Regions from separate parts of the Homo sapiens genome. Here all the other regions are reported to be linked to region 1. Evidence: microRNA targets listed by miRTarBase, many of them from high-throughput screens and not tested one by one. Region 1 holds a microRNA gene; each other region holds the end of a gene's coding sequence.
Evidence for each region. Region 1 holds the annotated microRNA hsa-miR-3157-5p (UUCAGCCAGGCUAGUGCAGUCU, at 3,512-3,533, shown strand). A microRNA usually pairs through its seed, bases 2 to 8, with sites in the 3' UTR of a target mRNA and lowers its output. Matches are read on the target gene's strand: a 7mer-m8 pairs with bases 2 to 8, a 7mer-A1 pairs with bases 2 to 7 and ends in A, and an 8mer does both.

Region 1 (7,203 bases):
CAGCCTGCATTTGTATTCTTACACATTCTGTCTTTGAGGTTATAAAATAATTCTTCCATGGTTTCTTTTTGGTCAGAATTTAAATGTTTTATTTGTTTATTTAATTTTGTTTTAAGAGATGAGGTCTCACTCTGTTGCCCAGGCTGGAGTGCAATGGTGAGATCATAGCTCACTGTAATTTCCAACTTCTGGGCTCAAGCGATCCTCCCACCTCAGCCTCCCTAGTAGTTGGGACTACAGGCATGCACCATCATGCTTGGCTAATTTTTAAATTTTTTTGTAGGGATGGGATCTCACTGTGTTGCTCAAGCTTGTCTTTGAACTCCTGGATTCAAGTGATCCTCCCACCTCAGCCTCCATAGTAGCTAGAACTACAGACACGTACCACTACACCTGGCTAATTTTTGTATTTTTTACAGAAACGAGAGTCTCGCTATATCACCCAGGCTGGTCTCAAACTCCTGGCCTCAAACAATCCTCCCACCTCAGCCTCCTAAAATGCTGGGATTACAAGCATAAGCCACTGTGCCCAGCCTAAAACTTAAATTTTTTGAGGTGTGGAATCCAAATTTGTTTTTCTAGGTGGCTACCCAGTTGACCTAACTCAATTTATTGAATAATATTTATTTTCCTCTACTAATTTAAGATACCACCTTTATTATATAATAAATTCTAAATATGTTTATTTTGGGAATTTCTGTTCTGTTTCACAGAATTGTGTGTCAACTCATTTGCCAGTACCATTTTTATTTTTTATAGATTTGTAATATATTTTAATATGTCATGGGGCTTTTCTATATTCATTATTCTTTATTTAGGTAATTTAAAAAAATTACCTTGTTAGAGTATGTTAAATTTATAGATTAAGGACAATTGACATCTTTATAAAGTTTACACTTTCTATAAAAGTATATGGTATGCCTTGTGCAACTTTCTTTTGTGTCATAAGTATTTTAGAGTTTTCTTTATGTAGATCTTGTGCATGTGTTGTATTTATTGCCATTTTGTCTTATTTTGGTGGCCATTATAATTGAGTATATCTTGCATTAAATCTAATTGGTTGTTGTTTGTATATATGAGAGCTATTTTAATTGTGTAGCCAGCCAATTTACTAAATTTCCTTATCACGTGTGATAGTTTTTCAGTTGATTACCTTGCATTTCCAGGTATACATTGATTCTGCAAATAGTTGTAATTTTACCTCCTCCTTCCCAATGTTTAAACTGTATTTTATTTTCTCTTGTTTAGTTGTATTGCATGTATAGGTAGGTATTAGTTTTTTTCTTTTTCCCTTTTATAATTCATTTTTACTGCTTTTGTCTTATTTCTTTCCTCCTGCTTTTGTTTGGTTTCTTGTTCTTAGACTTTTTCAGTTGGATGTTAATTTTATTCTGAGCATTGCTTTAGTTTTATCCCAGAGCTCATGATACGTAGAATTTTTGTTACAAGTGATTTTCTAGATAATTTGAAATTTCAGTTTCGATTTCTTATTTGACCTAAAGATTATTTGAGTTCTTTGGTCCTATTACATATTTCTTTTTAGTCACATTTTCATCAGAATATGTCTTCTGTAGTAATTCTACTTTTTGGAATTGTTGCAGTTTTTTGGTGGATTAATACATAGTCAAGTTTTGTAAAACCTCACATTAGAGTTTGATATTATCCAAGAAAACTTACAGAAATATAGTCAGTTATTAGTATACTGTTGTGTAAAGTGAAATCCAGTAATGGATTGACCTCATCTAACAAAGGCAAAAGTGGAAGTGTTTTTGCAGTTTGGAAACCATGAATTTTATTTTCTCTAGATAAGCTGCAGATTAGCTGGTAGCTAGCAAAGAGGCCAGTAAGGATATTCTGATCTCAGGCACCTAGATGGGTCAACAAAGAAAGCAATTTCAGTTATCTAAGGACTCTTTAGAAGACAGAATTTTGCTGTTGGCATGCGTGACAGGCTATCTCTGTACATCTGGCGGTGTACTTTGTTTTCTCTGCCGTCTTTGTTATTCCAGGTCTGCACCATTTCCTTCTCAGAATATCTAATATGTGTCCATTAGATGAACCATAATGGTGTGTTAGGGTTTTGTATATCCTTGCTTTTTTTTTTTTTAATGTTACTGATCTGTCATGGACTTAGAGAAATAAATTAGTTTCTTACCTACCATCTTTTTTTTTTTTTTTGAGACGGAGTCTTGCTCTGTCACCCAGGCTGGAGTGCAGTGGCGCCATCTCGGCTCACTGCAAGCTCCGCCTCCTGGAGCTTTCTCCTGCTTCAGCCTCTGGAGTAGCTGGGACTACAGGCGCCCGCCACCACACCCGGCTAACTTTTTGTATTTTTGGTAGAGACGGAGTTTCACCGTGTTAGCCAGGATGGTCTCGATCTCCTGACCTCGTGATTCGCCCGCCTCGGCCTCCCAAAGTGCTGGGATTACAGGCGTGAGCCACTGCACCCTGCCCCATGTTTTTCTTTTATTTCTCTGTAAAACCTTTATAGTTTGTGCATAATATTGCTACAGTTATTTGATCCAGAAGTATTAATAACTTCATCCTTATCATGAACTGTAACCTTTAGCATTATAAAGTGCCCTTTTTAAAATTTGGTTTAATACATTTTGGCCAAAATTCAGCCTTGTCTGTTATTAAGATCTTGATCCTTGCTTTTTGTTTGAGTTTTTCTGGTATCTCTACTTTTTCGTTGATCTTCAACCTTTCTTAATCATTTTATTTTAGACCTGTCTCTCATACAACATAGATTTGAGTTTCACTTTGTGATTCAGTCTGAAGTTCTTTTTCCCTTAATAGTTGAGTTTGTTTTCATTTATTGATTTGATATGTTTGGACTTAGTTCTGTCAGATTATTTTGTTATACTTTTGCTATTTATACCTTTAAAGTATAGTTTACTATATGGAAAGTTTGCTTTGTTTTATTCCTTCTTTTCATAATTAGAAAGCTTTGTGTTTTTGTTCCTGTAGTTAACTTTGTAATACAGATTGTATAATCAGTATTTCTGTTTTCTATTTAGCCAGTATCTCAGTATCTGTAATTCACTTTTATAAGTAATAACAGAATTAGTATATTTCCTTTCCTTTATTCTATCCCTCAATTCTATCAATTTTGTTTTCTTTCTTAGGGTTTACCTTTGTACCATTAAATATCCATGTACCATTCTTACTCAATTTGTCATTATTGCAGAAAGCTTTCTGACTCCCATCTTCTCTTACTAACCTACCCTGATACTGTCAGATCATTCTTCCTAAAACCACCATTTTCTAAAATCATTATTCTTTCTAAAACCAATCTTCCTAAAATCATCATTCTTCCTAAAATCACCAGTATCATATCACAAATCCTCAGCGATATCTCTGACCCCACAAAGTCTGTATTCTCTTCTGGCTTTCAAAACTCCGTAACTCAACCTCATTCTACTCACTCAACTTTATTTCCTCTACAACTTCTCAATGAGTCTGCCCTCACTGTCCAACAATTGAGCTGAGAATATAAGAAGGGAAGGGCTTCAGCCAGGCTAGTGCAGTCTGCTTTGTGCCAACACTGGGGTGATGACTGCCCTAGTCTAGCTGAAGCTTTTCCCTTCTTTCTACACCCAGCTCAAGTCCCAGGTCCATAAAACCTTTAGAAACTCTTCAGAAACTCTTTAGAGCTTCAGAAGCTCTTGAGAATTGGAAGATGTTTACACCCAAGTTCAAGGATTACTTCCATCCCATTTCTGGTCTATGTCAGGGGCCTCTGTTAACTAGGAACTCAGGAACTCTCAAAGCAGCACTACTCTGTTTGTAACATTCTGGCTTATTATTCATTGAAATGTGAGAAACTTTGGACCACTGACTTAATTCTGCCCTTTGCAGTAATAGGACTTCTCACATCTGGGAAGACAAGCATTTTACCTTTCCTTAGGCTTCCCCAGGTGAAAACACCACCAGTTCCTTCAGTTGTTACTCATATAACATGATTCCTGGACCCATCACCAGCTTGTGGCAAAACTTGGGTTTATCACCATTCCACTTAAAATTCAGTTCACAAGATTTTTGTAGATACGATCTAACCAGTGCTGAATCTGATGGGACTGTGCCTTCCTATGATCAGAGTACTCTACTTTTTAAATCAACCCAAGGCAGCATTTGTTTATTAGTCACTGCCTACTTTTACACTGCATTTTTGTTGTTGTTGTTTTGAGACAGGGTCTCACTTTGTCACCCAGGCTGGAGTATAGTGGCACAAACATGGCTCACTGCAGCCTCGACCTCCTGGGCTCAAGCAGTCCTCCTGCTTCAGCCCCACAAGTAGCTGAGACTACAGGCACACACCACCACGCCCAGCTAGTTTTTTTATTTTTTGTAGAGATGGGGTTTTGCCATGTTGGCCAGGCTGGTCTTGAACTCCTGAGCTCAAGTGATCCACCCACCTTGGCCTCCAGAAGTGCTGGCATTACTGGTGTGAGCCACCGTGCTGGCCAATTTTTTGTTACCTACATCCCAAGAGCCTATGATGTGCTATCATACATCAGATCCCTATCACACACAGGGGCGTAAGATGAGTAAGACAAAATCCCTGCTCTCAAGAAACATATGTTCATTCTATGAAATACCTAACCACGGATTTTCAGAACTGTCGAGGTCATCACAGACAAAGTCTGAGTAACTGTCACAACCCAGAGTTGCCTAAGACCTGAGTGCTAAAGGTAATGTGATATCCTGCATAGGAATCTGGGAGAGAAAAAGGATATTAGGGAAAAACTAAGGAAATTTGAATAAAGCATGGATTTCTGTTAGTAATAGTACATCAGTACTGGTGCATTGTGACAAATGTACCATCTCAATATATTAATAAGAAGAGAGACTGGCTGTGGGCTATATGGGGACTCTGTGTACTATCTTAGTAATAATTCTGTACATCTAAGCTGTTCTAAAATTAAAAATCTTAAGAAAAAAAAAGGACAGCCTGGGTAACATGGCAAACCCCCACCTCTACAAAAAATTGTAAAAATGAGCCAGGCATGTGGTGGTGTATGCCTACGATCCTAGCTACTCAGGAGGCTGAAGTGGGAGAATTTTTTGAGCCCAGGAGGTCGAGGCTGCAGTGGGCCATAATGGCAACACTGCGCTCCAGCCTGGCAGACAGAGGGAAGATATGTTTGACATAGTTTAGATATTTGTCCCCACCCAAATCCATGTTGAAATGTAATCCCCAATGTTGGAGGTGGGGCCTAGTGGGAGGTGTTTGTCATGGGGGCGGATCCCTCATGGCTTGGTGCTGTCCTTGTGATAGTGAGTTCACTTCATGTGAGATCTGGTTAAAGTGTGTGGCACCTTCGCCTACCCCCACTTGTTCCCACCAAGTGAGATTCCTGCTCCTGCTTACCCTTCTGCCATGTTTCTTGAGGCCTCCCAGAAGCCAAGCAGATGCCAGCTCCATGCTCCCTGTACAGCCTACAGAAGCATGAGCCAGTTAAACCTCTCTTCTTTATAAATTACCCAGTCCTGAGTATTTCTTTATAGCAATGCGAGAACGGCCTAACACAAGGTTCTAGTAGGGAGAAACTAGCAAGTAAATGGATACAAGACAGTCACTCTTACATTTTTAATTACAGGTCCCTTTGAGTAGACAAAACTTTAAGAATAGGGGAAATCATTTACATATAAATTGCATACCATGTCAAGGCTTCATGGACTTAAGAACTAATAAATTCAGGGTGGTGATGCTTACCTGGGAGGCAGAGGGTGTTATGGGAGGAAACAGAGTGGTAGTCAGGCAAGGATAGGATAGCAGGTGTCCTTCCCATATGATCCCTGAGCCTGGTCCTTATGCTGTCAACTGACTGTACTTGCTACTTTAAAATCTAAGGGATTGAAAAATGAATGTTGAGTGATTCCTAAACTAACACGATATTAAACCGAGTTCCAGACTACACCAGCCTAATTTTATTTAGTGGCAGACTCTAGCTCTGTTGCCCAGGCTGGAGTGCAGTGGTGTGATCTCAGCTTATTGCAGTCTCCACCTCCTGAGTTCAAGTGATTCCTGTGCCTCAGTCTCCCAAGTAGCTGGGACTACAGGTACGTGCCACCACACCCAGCTAGTTTTTGTACTTTTAGTAGAGACAGGGTTTCACCATGTTGCCCAGGCTGGCTTCAAACTCCTGGCCTCAAGTGATCCACTGGCCTCAGCCACCCAAAATGCTGGGATTACAGGCATGAGCCACCGTGCGGGCCTCTACTAGCCTAATTGCTGCAAGTGTGCTAGTCGTATTTATCAAACTAGATGTAAGCTGCTTGAGGCTAGGGAGGCTTTTACCACGTGCCTGAGAGGCAGTTGTTGGTTATAAACTTGCCACATGGGGCTCAGATCACCTCAAGGCAAAGCTACCTGGCCTGGTTTGGAATGCTTTTTCTTTTTCTTAAAGTCAGCCCTAAAGAACATGGTATATTAACTCTTGAGGGCTGCTAAACCCTGGCACTGTGCCAGAACAAGTGACAATACGATAGTTTTGAGACTAATTTCAAAAATGTTTTTTAAAAAGGCAGTGTAAATTCCTAACCCGCTTGTACAAACCTGTTAAATTTTACTTTTCAAAACAAATTCCATCTGCTAAGGTTTGAGTTGAATTAAGTAGCAAATGATATTTATACTCAGGTAAATAGACCATTCTCACTCACTGTAGACCCTATATTCCTTCTCATAGCTTTAACCATTTTCTGTGTCCCTACTTTTGACATCAAACTTCAGATTTTCTGATGCTTGCATGATTGTTGAATAAATTAGAATCTGTAGTTGCTAACATACTAACAACTGATTTTAAGCTCAAAAAGGCAACAGTGGTGTCCAATATACTTTTGTGGGCTTTAATGCTCAGTATGGAATACGCAATGAACGGATGTTTTATGCCACTAATGGCTATATTCTACATCTTGATGGCTTTTAGTAAATAAAATCATGATTCCAAGTCTGAATTACATGATGAGATGGTTCACTAGAGCTGCAAATATACAAGTTTGTATTTAAAACAAAAATACCGAAGCCATTTTACTGAAAACTAGTTTTATTTTAAAATTAAGTGCATAGCACTCATCTAATTCCATTGGTGTAGACTTTAGCACCATACTTGCTATTTGCAATTAATGTCGTAACACAGATACATTTTGGTTTGCAGTCTGTACTTGAGTAGTGTTTATTTAGTGGACTTTGGTAAAGCC
Region 2 (7,203 bases), not on the chromosome of region 1:
TTTTTATGGTATCTTTTTCAATCTTTTAACTTACAACCATTTGTATATTTAGATTTTATATAGGCTTCCTGCAAGCAGCATATAATTTAGTATGATTTTTATTCAGTCTGGTAAATTCTGACTTTACTTGGAATATTTTGTCTATTTACATTTAATGTAGTCAGTGATAAAATTTGGTTTGCATCTACCATTTTATTCAGTGCTTTCTATTGGTTCTGTTTCCTTTTTTCTCCTTTCTATCCACTTTTTGTATTGAGTGTTTTGAAAATTTAGTCCCATTTTCTTCTGTTAGCTTAGATGTCATATATCTCTTTATTATCCTTTCAGAGTTACCCTAGAGGTTACAAAATGTATCCTTGAGTTGTCATGGATCATTGAGTTATCAATGTCAACTTATACTTTTATCCTCCTCCTAAACAATGCAAGTGCCTTAGAAAAATTTAATCCATTTAGCCCTCTTCTGACTTATATATTACTCTTTTGTTTTATAACTGCATTGCTCCTATTATTGCTGTTTCTTATAATTTTTTTATGCAGTCAATAAGCCAATCCACATACCTGTCCTTAAATTTATTTCCAACCTTCCAACTGGGATAATTTTTCTTCTGCTTAAAAAGTACCCTTTAATAATTTCTTGTGTTGCAGATCTCCTAGTGACAAATTTTATTAGTTTCATTTGTCTGAAAATGTCTTTCGTTGCCATTCTTGAAGAATATGTTTGCATGAAGAATATGTTTGCCTAGAATCCTACTTTATTTTACTATTTCAATATATTGAACATATCATTCCATCTTTTTGGCTTTCATTGTTTCTGATGAGAAGTCAACTGTCAGCTTAATTATTGCTCTTATGAAGGTAATTTATCGTTTTTCTCTGAATGCTTTTAAAGGTTTTTCTTTTTCTTTTTGGCTTTCAGCAGTATTAGTATTCTAAGGTGTATCTAGGTATCGTTTTCTTTTTATTTATTCTGCTTAGGGTTAAGAAGTCTTCTTGAAAACAAGTCTTTTATCGTTTTTGGAAAATTCGTATTCCATATGATCTCCCAACATATTATTCCTTCCTTTAGTAGTGAAATTTCTTCAATCAGTGGTCCATGCCTACTCACTCTTTCTCCTTTTCTAAATCATTAAGCTATTCTAAATCTATCCTTCTCTCTCTTCTGTAATTTCTATCCTTTTGTCTTTCTGTGCTTCTTTCTAAATATCTCTCAGGAGAGATTCACTGAGTTTCTCACTTTTGCTACTGTATTTTTAAATTCTGGAATTTCTATTTTCTTCAAATCTGCTATATCATTTTTATTATGTCCAGTTCTCTTGAAATTTTCAATATTGGCATTTACCCTGTGAACAGAGTAAGTGTCTTAGCTCAGGCTGTCATAACAAAATACCATAGATTGGATAGCTTACAGCAGAAATTTCTTTTCTCACAGTTCTAGAGGCTACAAGTCCAAGATCAAGGTGACAGCATGGTTAGTTTTGGTTGAGAGTTCTCTTCCTGTCATCTAGATGGCCACCTTCTTACTGTGTCTTCACATTGAAGATGGAGGAAGAGAGGGAGAAAGGAAGAGAGAGAGAGGGAGAATGGCAGAGGGGGAGTGGAAGAAGGAGAGGAGAAGCACTGTGATGTCTCTTCTCATAAAAGCAATAACCCCATCATGAGGGTTCTTCCCTCATTACCTTCTCTAAACCTAATTCTCTCCCTAAGGTCCTGTCTCCAAATACCACATTGGGGGTTATAGCTTCAACATACGCATTTTCAAGGACACATTTCAATCCACAAGCATTCTACCCCAGGTAGAATTCATGTTCTTCTTGCATGCAAAGTACATTCATTCTATACCAACAATACCAAAAATCTTAACTCATTCCCATGTCAACTCTAAAGTCTAAAGTTCAAAGTCTCATAAATATTATCCAAATGAAGTACGGGTGAGACTCAAGATATGACTTGTCCTGAGGCAAAATTATTCTCCAGCTATGAGCCTGTGAAACCAGCCACACTATGTGCTTCCAAAATGCTATGGTGGGAGAGGCATAGGAGACATATTTCCTTCCAAAAGGGAAAAATCAGAAGAAAAAAATGGGTGATGGATCCTAAGCAAGTCCACGACCTGGCAAGGCAAATTCCACTGGATCTTAATTCTTGAGTATAGTCTTCTTTGGCTTAGTGTCTTGCTTTCTAAGCCCACTGGGGTGGCAACATCATTCCCATGGCTCTGCCCCTTTGACTCTACAATGCCCCATCCCCATGGCTCTAGGTAAGTGTCCTGTCCCTGTAGCTCTGCTGACCCAGGGTCCCACCCCATAGCTCTGCTGAGCTGGGGTCCACTGGGTGGTCCTTCTTCCAAAGCTCATGGTGAAAGCCACCTGGCTGTTGAAACTGGGACAATGGCCCTGATGATCTCTGGATCTCCTGTGGAATCATTTTTCCTTCTTCTTGAAGAATAGTGCATGTTTGCAGCTGAATAGTTCTATCATCCCATCCTGTCTAATTCAAGAAGTCCAATCAATAGGCTTCCTTAACTTCATCCTGCAATGTTTCTGCTCATATGATCCCATACACTTATCAAATGTCTGTTAACCCACCCTTAGCATTCACATTGGAAAGAGCTTTCTCGTTTTTTCCAATATAAATAGGCTAAGAATTTTCCAAATCTTCACATTCTGATTTCTTTTTGCTTAACATTTCCTTCTTCAATTCATCTCTTGCCATTCACATTTTATGATAAGCAGTCAGGAGGAACCAAGTTGCTCCTTTAACACTTTGCTTAGAAATATCCTCAGCTAAATATCCAATTTCATTGCTTGCAAGTTCTTCCTTCCATAAAACACTAGAACACAGTTCAGTCAAGGTCTTTGCCATTTTATAATAAGGGTCACCTTTCCTCTAGTTTCTAATAACATATTCCATATTTCCACCTGACAACTCACCAGAATCACCCTCAATGTCCATATATATAGTATGTACCTCAAAACTCTTCCAGCTTCTACCCATAACCAGTGGCAAGGCCACTCCCACATGTTTAGGTATTTGTTACAGTAGTACCCAACTCCTGGTACCAAAATCTGGCTTAGTCAGCTGGGGCTGCCATAACCAAACACCATAGACTAGATGGCTTAAACAACAGAAATGTATTTTCCCATAGTTCTGGAGGATAGAAGTCCACAGTAGTCAACATAGTTATTTTAAAGACTGTGTCTAATCACAAAGGCATAAGAATGATACAATGGACTGTGCGGACTTGGGGGGAAGAGTGGGAAGGGGATGAGGGATAAAAGACTATAAATATGGTGCAGTGTATACTGCTCTGGTGATGGGTGTACCAAAATCTCACAAATCACCACTAAAGAACTTACTCATGCAACCAAATACCACCTATACCCCAATAACTTATGGAAAAAATAAAGTCTGGGTCTAACGATTCCAATATTTTAGATCCTTTTAGGTCTGTTTCTATCATCTATTGTTTTGCCACTTGTTCAGACTGTCATGTCTCCTCACGTACCTGAATATTCTTGATTGTGTTCTAGAAATTGTGAAAATAGAGGTCTAGAATAATGTTAACTTTCTGTAAAGAGAATTTACATTTTATTTCTGGCAGGTTCCTTGAAGCAATAGAAACCAAGGATCTCGTTAAGTTCAATTTCTGGGATTGAGATTTTTAAAATCACTCAGATGATTAGAAGCTAAACTATATCATATGCCAGGGATAGTTTACTTCCAGTTAACCCTTACCACTAGGGCATAGACTTTTAGAGTCCCTACCCAAATGAAGAAGGTTTACCAGGGCCCCAACCTTGACTCAAGTTTTTTGTCCCCCTTGTTTTGCAAAGCTTTTAAAAATACTCCTCAGCCTTTCAGCCACATTTTCTAGAATTGTCATATTCTTCCAGGAAAAAAGTAGCTCCAAATGCCAGACCCAACCCTCTAAATTTCTATCTTCTCCTAGATCTTGGCCCAGAAATTCTTCACTACTTTATTAGCTCTCTGTTCAAGCTAATTAAAAATATGTATTTTTAAATATGTATTTTAAATCAGTGGCCCATGACTACTGCCCCTTTCCCTAGACATCATTGAATAATCTCACATCTGTCATTCTCTGCTTCCCTCTGCAAGAAGGAAGAGGGAGGATATACTTTGGGGACAGCTTAGCTTCATGTTCCAACCATTTAATTTATTGGTTGGTCATCTTTGTTGAGTGTCTGTAGTTAGCCTGACAACTAGACTTTTCTGCAACTAGATTTTATAATTATCATATATGCTTTACATAGGCTTTAATGAAATATATTTTACTTTCACTAAGTATAAATAGAAGATGATTTTTTTCTCCTCTGGCTTGATTTCACAGGTCACTATGGATGTCATAGAGTAGGTACCATAATCAGAAGTAAAGGCAGATGCATTCAATGCAAATTGTGTAAATTATTAATCTTATTAAATTTGCATGTCAGAAAAATGACTACCCCAACCTTAAGGCTTGCTTTTATCACAATAATAAGGTAGCCAAATGCTTTGGTCCTTGAATTTACATTTTATAGACAATATATAACATTACATGTAATAGATGTTTTATATTTTCAATTATTTCAGAGGTTATTTTACTATTAAAGTCAAAAGTTTTTCTGCTGTAATTTACAGCCACAGTTTGATATTTAAGAGTCACTTATTAGCTTTCTCTCTGCAATATTTCTTACCTTCCCTCTCATCTCAACCCTCCTTCCATGATTCCTTTTGATTGAGACTTAAGATTCCATTCTATTGGACCAAGGACTGAAGTAGAGAAATTATTTGTGTAAGATTATACAATTGGTGGCAGAGCTGGACAATATACAAAACTTCTGAATGCCAAACTAAAATTTCTCCCTAGCCCCAGTACTCTCCCCAACCTGATGGTTGGTATACCTTCAGGGCAAAACAGCAGCAGATGTGCCTCTACCACAAAAGGGTTGAGGGAGAAAGTATAAGCAAAAAGTTCACTCCATTCCCCTTCTCATGAGAATTTTACTTTCAGTTGACTCCCTAGCTCTATTCTCCTAGTAACTTGATAAGGTGATATGTGTCAACTGTGTTACTAAGCAATTTGAACTACTTAAAAATGACCCCTGATTGGTAAATTCCATCTGAACTGGGAGGAATGTATACCTAATAGAAAACCACAGCTTTGAGTTTCTGTGAGTATGTTGACTTTTGTAGCTGGGCAAATCCATGGTGGGGACCCTGGAAGCTATGCCTATGGAATTATTACAAGAGATTCCAGCCCCTGGGGTGTGAAGTTTTACGCCAGGGCAGCTCCTGTACCCACCCGGTGTGAACCTCTTTTCCTTGTATTGTATCTGCACTCCGTAAACTAAGGACTAAAGAAAACAGCTATGTGTTCTGCATGGGTATGGCAAGGGCTCCTACAGGAAGAGAAATGTCTGATGTTGCCTTGCTGGAAGCTGTTTCCTGTCTTATATTTTTCTAAGTACATTCATGCCAAATATGGTCTGTATTAGTCTCATGAGTATGACAGCCTTTAGTTGAGCCCAAGACCAACCCCTTGTGGGCACTGCAGAAGGTGTCTGAGCTAGAATTGGGCAGGCTCTGTGTCTCATGCCATGCTTACAGCTAGCACAATGCATTAGGGCATACCTTGTCTACTTCCATAAGAACAAGATTGTTTATATGTAACACTGACACATTCTATAGCTTCATTTGACGAGGTACACACATGCTAAAAGAACCCATAAAAATAATTTAGAGTCCTCTTTTTTGTATCACAAGAGTCTAATTGCTGTAATATCAACTCTAATTTTCTAATAATCTCAACAGTAGATAACATAAACTAGAGGAAATGTGCCAATTTAAGTGGAAGTCCTCCATTTCTTAAACAGCAATCTTCACATTATGATTGTTTGAGCACAGCACAAAGCTGAACAATGCCGCTTTTCTTCCTTTCTCTGCTTTTTTTCCTGGTGGAAAATCAAACTCACCTTAGCTGTTGTTCTCATTTTGAGTTTCTTTCTCAAGTAACATGGCAGCATTTGAGGCCTCATCTTGCTCTCCCTCAGTTAATTTCTTTTGAACCATGCTTTCCGTGTAACTGTGGATGATCTGATGGGCTGCAAGAATATGTTTCCGCTGTGCGTTCCTCACTGTGCCAAAGTAATAGAAAAATTTTCATTCTGAAAGTCTGAACAAAACCATTCCCAAATGTTTCAAGAGAGTCATGATAGAAATAATTTTGCAAATTAAAGGTAAAACCCAACCCAAATCTAATTTCTTTCTGCTCCCTCTGTTCCCACTCTCTGGTTCAGCCCAGTCATACTCCTTTCCACCAGGCTTGCCTCCATTCCACTCCTCAGCAGTTTCCCTCATCTGGAATGCCTGCACTCTAAAACCTGGAAAGCTCATGTCCAAGATCCTCCAGGAAGTCTCCTCTGACTACATCAGCCCAGATTTACCACTTACCGCACTTGAGTTTGTACCAACCTATTCAGCATTGAAGCACTTCATGTGAGTTACATTTCGTTTGATATCTAGAGTGTAAGTAACTTACAAATATAAAGACCTAGTCTTATACTTCTCTTTGAGCCTTAGTTCTTAATGTGGAAGGGACTTACTGATTGATGATGAGTTTATGAGCTCATGGCTTTAGAACATAGTCCTAGCTCCAAATTCTAAGAATATTCACTATCAGGGTAAGCACCTAAGCCCTTGGAAAGGAGTAGTGATGATGATGATGTTAACAGTTAGCATTTGTCCTTACTTTGTGCCAGGTACTGTTTTAAGCAGTTCACATGTAATTATTCATTTAATCCTCCTAGAAGATAGTATTTTAATATCCGCATTCTCAGAAGAAGAAACATGGACACAGAGATATTAGGTAATTTACATAAAGTCAAATAGCTAGTAAAGGACCGCAAGAAGTACTGTGGATTCTTTGCTGTTTGGGTATCAGGTAGTTTAGATAGGGTAATTCACTCAGCAGTTTTTAGCACTTCACAGTAATATGGTTGAAAAAGTGGGGGCTTTGGAGTCACATAGACCATGGTTCAAATTTGCAAGTCATATGTCTCTAAGAGCTAATTTCCATTAAGTGAAAAATGAGAATATACCTACAACTCTTGAAAGAAATTGAGATAGTGTACATTTAAAAATGTTCAGTGAACTTCTTGGAACTTAGCATGCATTTAAAATTTGGCAGTTACTATTACTTTATAT
Region 3 (7,203 bases), not on the chromosome of region 1:
AGGCAGAAAATAGGTTACTGGATCTGGCAACAGCACATCATTCCTGACTTCCGTAAATGCAGTTTCACTTGTGAAATGCAGCAGGAAGCCAAATGACAATGGGTTAAATAGGTACTTGAGGCTGGGAGTAATTCATTACAGGGACTAATTCAGTGGTTCCCAAATCTGACCACGCCTCAGAATCATCAAGGGAATTTGTTTAAAAGTCCTTCTCCTCCTGAAGCCTTAGTAGTGGGAGGCATGAGGCCTATTAAAGTTCTTTTCCATAGATTTTGTTCAAAGGATCTTTCTTTTCCTTACTTCCATTTGGAATAAGCTTATAAAGGACTGGCTTGAACCCTAGGATTGTGCCTGGATGTGTAATCACCCAACAAGTTCCCCTTGCGCACTGTCCAGGCAAAGCCAATTCATCAAGACAGGGGAATTGGAATAAAGAGTTCAATTCATGCAGAGCTGGTTGTATGGAAGACTGGAGTTTTATTATTACTCAAATCAGACTCCTGGAAAACTCAGCGATCGTGGCTTTTCAAGATAATTTGGTGGATAGAGGGCTTGTTTTGGAAAAGGGCTGTTACTGTCTTTGTTTCAAAGTTAAACTATAAACTAAGTTCCTCCCAAAGTTAGTTTAACCTACGCTCAGGAATGAACAAGGGCAGCTGGGAGGTCAGAAGCAAGATAAGAGTCAGGTCAGATCTCTTTTACTGTCATAATTTTCTCAGTTATAATTTTTGTAAAGGCAGCTTAAGGTGGTGGTTTTCAATAAATATTTGTTTTGTTGCATGTAGACAACTTTAGGTCCTACCAATTTTTTACTTTAAAGCCCTTTTATCAATAGTTCAATTATTGTAATTACAGTCAGGAGAAAACCATTGTAGGATGGTATAATTATTTTTTTAATCACAACTTTATTGAAATATCATTCACATACCATAAACTCACCCCTTTAATGTGTGGCTTTTGGAATATTCCGTTATGCAGCTCCCCTAAAAGAAGACTCATACCCATTAGAAGTCATTCCCCTTTCCCATTCCCTTCAGCCCCTGGCAACCAACACTAGTTTCTGTCTCTATGAATTTGTCAATTCTAGACATTTTATGTAATTAGAATGATATAATATGCAGCCTTTTGTGTCTGATTTCATTCACTCAGCGTAATGTTTCCAGGGTTCATCAATGAAGCATATATCATCACTTCATTCTTTTTTATGGCCATAATATTCCATTTTCCATAGACATACAATATGTCCATAGACATACAATTCCATTTCCATATACATACAATATGTTGTATGTATAGATACAACATATTGCTTATCCATCAGCTGGGCATTTGAGTTTCTGCTTTGGGGCTATTAAAAATAATGCTGCTATGAATATTTGTGTACAAGGTTGTGTGTAAATGTTTTCATTCCTTTTGGATATTATATGTGGCAGTGAAATTGCTGGGTCATATGGTAACTTTATATTTAACCTTTTGAGGAACTGCCAAATTGTTTTTCAAAGTGGCTGCACCATTTTACCTTCCCACCAGCAATGTATGCGAGTTCCAATATCTCCACATCCTCACGAACACTTGTTATCTGGCTTTTTTGTTCTGACCATCCTTGTGAGTGTAAACTGGAATCACTGTGGTTTTAATGTGCATTTCCCTAATGACTAAGGATGTTGAGCTTCTTTTCAGGTGCTTATTGGGCATTTGGATATCTTCTTTGTAGAAATCTCTATTCAAATTATTTGCCATTTTAAAATCAGGTTATTTCCTTTTTATTACTGAATTGTAATTATTTAGATATTTCAGATACAAGTCCCTTATTAGATATGTGATCTGCAAATATTTTCTCCCATTGTGTTGTCTTTTCACTTTCTTAGTGGTGTTGTTTGATACACAAGAGTTTTTTATTTAAAGAAATATAATTTTCTTTTTTTTTTGGTTGCTTGTGTTTTTCTTTTTTTTTTTTTAAGAGGTACGATCTTGCTCTGTGGCCCAGGCTGGAGTGCAGTGGTGCTATCACAGCTCGCTGTAACCTCAAACTCCTGGGTTCAAGCAATTCTCCCACCTCCACCTCCTGCATAGCTAGGGCTACAGGCTAATTTTTTTTAAATTTTTTGTAGACACAGGGTCTTGCTATGTTGCCCAGGCTGGTTTCAAACTCCCAGCCTCAAGTGATCCTCCACCTCCCAAAATGCTGAGATTATAGGCCTGAGCCACCATGCCAGACCTGCTTGTGCTTTTGATATCATATTTAAGAAACCACTGCATATCCCATTGTCACGTTTACTAAGTTTCCAAGAATTTTATAGTTTTAACTCTTACATTTAGGCCTTTGATCCATTTTGAGTTAATTTTCTTATATGGTGTATGAGGTAGTGGATGGTATAACTTTATTTACTCATTTTTCTCAGGGCAGGGTATAGCCCCAGTGGATCGAGGTCAGAGCTGTGGGAAGGCCCCAAAGGCATTTGCTGAGGTCTGATTATGCCAGACACCTAGGTGGGACTCTAGTCATGCACAGCCTTGTGCTTTATGTTAAGGGTTTCACCCTATCTAAGAGCAACAGGAGAGAAGAGATCAGGTCTGTATATTGAAAACTCTGGCTGCAATGTAAGGAATGGGGTGAGACTAGAGACCTGTTAGGAGGTTACTGCACCAATTTGGAGGAGTTAATAGCTAAATAGGATATAGTGCCTAGTTAGGGAAGTGGAAAGATGAGAGAGAAATATTCTAGGAGGTAGAATGGATGAGAGACAAGACTGGATGATGTAAAGAATACAACCTTTGGTCAAAAACAAGGTATGAGTAAAGTCACTGGTTTTATTGAGCAGCTCAAACTAGTTCTGAAGGCAACTGTTCAGAAGGCGTTCCCAACAGCTTTTGAGCAATGCACAGCCTCCCATAAAACCTTAAAAAGTACATCTGTTAATGTGCACATTAGTCTTTGTTAGTCACGTTCACTAAATGCATTAACCTTACATATACTTCCAATTAAAAAAACACATAGGCTTTTCAGTATTTTGGCCTAGATTTTTGTTCAAATGAGTCCAAATGTGTGAGTGAGGTTTACCTGTTTTCTGATTCTGATCTATAAAAATGGGTGGTCTCAAAAGACCAGAAAGTTTATTCATAGCCAAAAATGACAAAAAGAGTTCTTATTCTCCCAAAATAGGAAATTTTGTATTCCTATAGTCAAAACAATAAACAATTTTTGAAATTAAAAAAGTTGAGAATCTTGAAATTCATTTTTTTCAGTAGAATAAAACAATAAGCAGCATGAAAACGTAAAGTGCTACATAAAAGCCCCACATTACATAAATTTTGAAAAGTTTATTGGCTTAAACAGTTACAGGTGAAACAGATTACGTATTTTTTTTTCAAGCATGCTATTTTAATTACCTTGATATCTCATCATGTGCTATGTTGGTCAAATAAAATGTCATGAGTTATCTAGATCTGAGGATTAAAGAGGAGTCCTCAGCCTTTACTTGCCAGAATATACATCCAGTTTTAGCTGTATGCTGGAATTAAGGAGTTAAAGTAGGGCTTTAAAGATAATAGTTTTCTGAAGAGGCCTTTCAGTGGGGCTTGGACAAAAAGGGCCCCAAAGACCAATTTTGCTCATTAACCTCACACTGGGGATCAGATTGACAACTTAAGGATTTTTAGGGAGCATATGTGAGATCAAAGGGAAGAAGAAAATGGTGCCCCTTTCAGATGGTGCTTCAGGTGCTAAAAAATATCCCAACACAAACAAGCAGGTGGCTAGCTGACAGGTGGGGGAAGAGATGCAAGTCAGATAGCAAAGGATCTGCACAGTGCAAAATCTTCTTGGCTTTTTATTTAACTTAGCAGTGAATGCAGCAGGATTGGCTTAAAGTATAGGTACACCCCATGGAAACATGCAATAAGATCACATCGATCCAGAGGCTGGCTCAAGTTTGACTGAGGGGAAACGGAGGGAAGGCTGTTCCTAGCACACAATCTCAGCAGAGGTTGAGGTGGTGGGGATTTCTTTCTTCTCATATGACGCTACCGTCGGTGACTTCTTACTAGGAGACCACTGAGCACTGAATCAAGGTTTCTAATATGTTTCAAATCAAGATTTTAGAGTGTATTTTCTTATGGCAATAGAGTTATAAAATGGTAACCTATGATTTTCCTCATATAATGAGATCTTCATAAAGTCCTTGAGCTTTTTAGACTTTAACAAATTCAGCTACAGATATAAAAAATAATCTGTAAACACCTTTAAAATGCGAATTTATTAAAGTTTAAGACAATTCTGTATTATATAATAGTGTACAATATGTTCTTATTTTAGATGTAGAAATAAAGGAAAACTGGCTCTCAGATGAAAACAGAAATTGTGTCTGACAGTTAATAGAACGAATGTCCCATAAACAGGAGTAAAAATTAAATTTTCCTTTAAGACGATTTTACAATTATTTCTCTTGTCCATAATTTCACTTAGTTAAAACCACATAAGGACTTTATGAATACCCTCCCCTATACTATTCAAGATATACATATGGGCTAACTTTCGTGGACCGATCTAGAACCTAAATACCACTTCCAACATTGTTTGACTTGTAAAAAAATTAACTTACAAATAACACTTTTGGAGCATAACCTATTTGAAAGCTTGGAACCACCTGTATTTAAAAATTAAATCTTCATTAACAACACCCTCAAGAGTGCCCTCAGTGCTGCGAACTGAACATGCTGAAGGCAATGTTTTTCTGTGATTATATGGTTTCACCAGCCATTATGATGATAATATTATCTACTAGAGTCTGTGGCGCTAGCTAGCACTAAGTTATATATTGATTTTTCCACTGAAAATTCTTTCTTGGGCTCTGACTAGGTGGACAATTCTAAGTAAAGGTTTTTCTAACTTCTATCACTGTTACTTGGGCCCTGAGGTTTTCTATTAAAATAGGACATGAAATATTTCAATATTATGCATATTCCTGGAATAATTAAAATTTATACTGATTATAAAGCTAGGCATATAATACATCCCAAAAGACATACATTTCAAAGCAGACCAAACATTCAAATCTTCAGATCCCCCCATTTAACTTCTGGAAGAAAACCAAGCGATCTCCTGGCTTGGGCCCTTTCTTCCTTAAAAATCTATGGAAGACTGTTTTCTTTCTTTTTAAATTTGTGTGATTATGGCAGCAGAGGGCAGGGGGTGGTGATAACAGCATATCAAAGTGGTTACAAAGTACTCCCTCTTCAAGTAGCATCCAGTGACAAAGATGTGATCTCATTTCCTCATAAATGTTTGACTGAAATAAAATTATTTTCACTGAAGAATGTTTAGGACACAAATAAAGTCACAGAATGAGCAATTCCAGTACATCTCCTATGAATGACATTTTAAGGAAGCTACTTGAGGAGTTTTGCTTTCCCTTTTCAACTCTTCTATCCCTATACATTCTACATACGTAGAAACAGAGTACTCAATAAGTGGTATTGAGTAACTAGTAATACTCATTGGAACTTAAAACATCATCTTTTATCCAAAAATTTCAAAGGGCAATATAGGAAAGTATTACAAATTTACATAAAAAGAAGATGAAACATGAGAAAAAACAAGTTATTTCCCTGCAAAGCAGATCAAATAGTGAGACAAGGAACTTTGACTTCTAGTCCCTTTAAGCAGGACGTAACTGCTAGACACAGTCTGAATGTCTAGATATATTTATACTAAACTTACAAGGATCAAAAAAAGGAATGAAGGGTAAATACAAAATAATCTTTTTGTAAACAATTCTTAGATTATACCCAATGCAGAATGTTTAATGAAGCAGTTGAGTCACAGCTCATAAGTCACAAAACCATATTATAACTCAAAGTCAAATATGTATTCGTTTGCCAGATATATTCGTCGGAATATAAGAGCTGCCAATGCCAAAGTCAGGATGACAATCAGTACAGCTGACCCACCATGATCAGTGTGGTTGTCTCTTGGCTGGTGGCCCTGGATTACATCTGGTGAAGTAGACAACCTTCTCTGACTCTGCTGCTGGGCCCGGCGCTGTCGAGGGCTCATGGAGGTATTCTTAGCTACAGGTTGGGTAGGTTGATGAAAGGATGCTGCTGAGGAATTCTGGAGTCCGTACTAGGAAATTTTAAGAAACTTTGTTTGAAACTGGCAAAGAAGATTTGTAAATACACTTGTTATCTATTCAAGAATACACAATCTCAGAGGACAACATATGACTAAGGGCAACACTACCAAGAATGATTGTTACTAATAATACATCCCTTGAGGGGCATCTAAATTTAGGTTCAAAAAAAAGTCATAAGTTAGGACAGCTTTTTGGCCTTTTAATAGTTTTATTAATATATTTAGAAAAACAATCCCTTAAAACATTGGTCTAGATGATATTTTAACACATACGCTTAATGAAAATATGTATATACATATAATGTTTTAATTAGGTTCCTATGTTTCAGATGCCTTTTGTCTCTATTTTTTTAATCATTATTTTTTTAGAGATGGGATCTTGTTACATTGCCCAGGCTGGTCTTGAACTCCTGGGATCAAGCGATCCTCCTGCCTTGGCCTCCCAAAGTGCTGGGATTATAGGCATGAACCAACGTGCCCAGCCTCAGATGCCTTTTGGATGGTATATCACTAACTAAAAATTAAGTGCCTTGATATTATAAAATTCTAAATTTTTTCCTATTTAAAACAATCATACAGCACTTTGGGAGGTTGAGGCAGGAGGACTGCTTGAGCCCAGGCATCTGAGACCAGTCTGGCCAACATAGTGAGACACTATCTCTACAGAAAAATTTTAAAACTTAGCCAGGTGTGGTCATGCCCACCTGTGGTCCTAGCTACTTGGGAGGTTAAGGCAAGAGGATCACTTGAGCTCAGGAGGTTGAGGCTTCGGTGAGCTATGATCACATGCCTGCACTCCAACCTGAGCAACAGAGTGAGACTCTCCCTTAAAAAGATAAAAAATCACATTCTTAGTTAAGTCCCTAGTGATATATATATAAATTTTTCTAGAATAACCAGCATGTGTGAGGGAGTTTTGCTTTTTATTATAAAATGAAATGGCTTATTCAGAACCTCGATCCCTACCCTGGGAAAAGGAGAAAATCTGACAGACTGCAAGAACAAAACTGCCTTCAGTGTTTTTCCCATTTCTACATTTCCCATTGCTTTTTGATGCTAAAATATCTGCA

Region 2: the mRNA of CFAP91 is a reported target of hsa-miR-3157-5p. The part of its 3' UTR that is shown has no 7-base or 8-base seed match.
Region 3: miRTarBase lists UBE2J1 as a target of hsa-miR-3157-5p. The part of its 3' UTR that is shown has no 7-base or 8-base seed match.

Annotation. Positions count from the first base shown.
Region 1 is chr10:96,060,699-96,067,901 of GRCh38, reverse strand. MIR3157 (microRNA 3157) reads left to right here and starts at 3,503; the gene lies at 3,503-3,587. It overlaps CCNJ (cyclin J), which reads right to left. Exons shown (of 6, transcript NM_001134375.2): 6 at 7,032-7,203. The region is part of intron 2 of ENTPD1-AS1 (ENTPD1 antisense RNA 1); the gene reads left to right.
Region 2 is chr3:119,749,868-119,757,070 of GRCh38, reverse strand. It overlaps CFAP91 (cilia and flagella associated protein 91), which reads right to left. Exons shown (of 18, transcript NM_033364.4): 17 at 5,973-6,134. The coding sequence ends at 5,974. Among named protein-coding and RNA genes, the nearest start is that of NR1I2, 29 kb to the left of the region's middle.
Region 3 is chr6:89,323,834-89,331,036 of GRCh38, forward strand. It overlaps UBE2J1 (ubiquitin conjugating enzyme E2 J1), which reads right to left. Exons shown (of 8, transcript NM_016021.3): 8 at 2,792-6,124. The coding sequence ends at 5,846. Among named protein-coding and RNA genes, the nearest start is that of GABRR2, 12 kb to the left of the region's middle.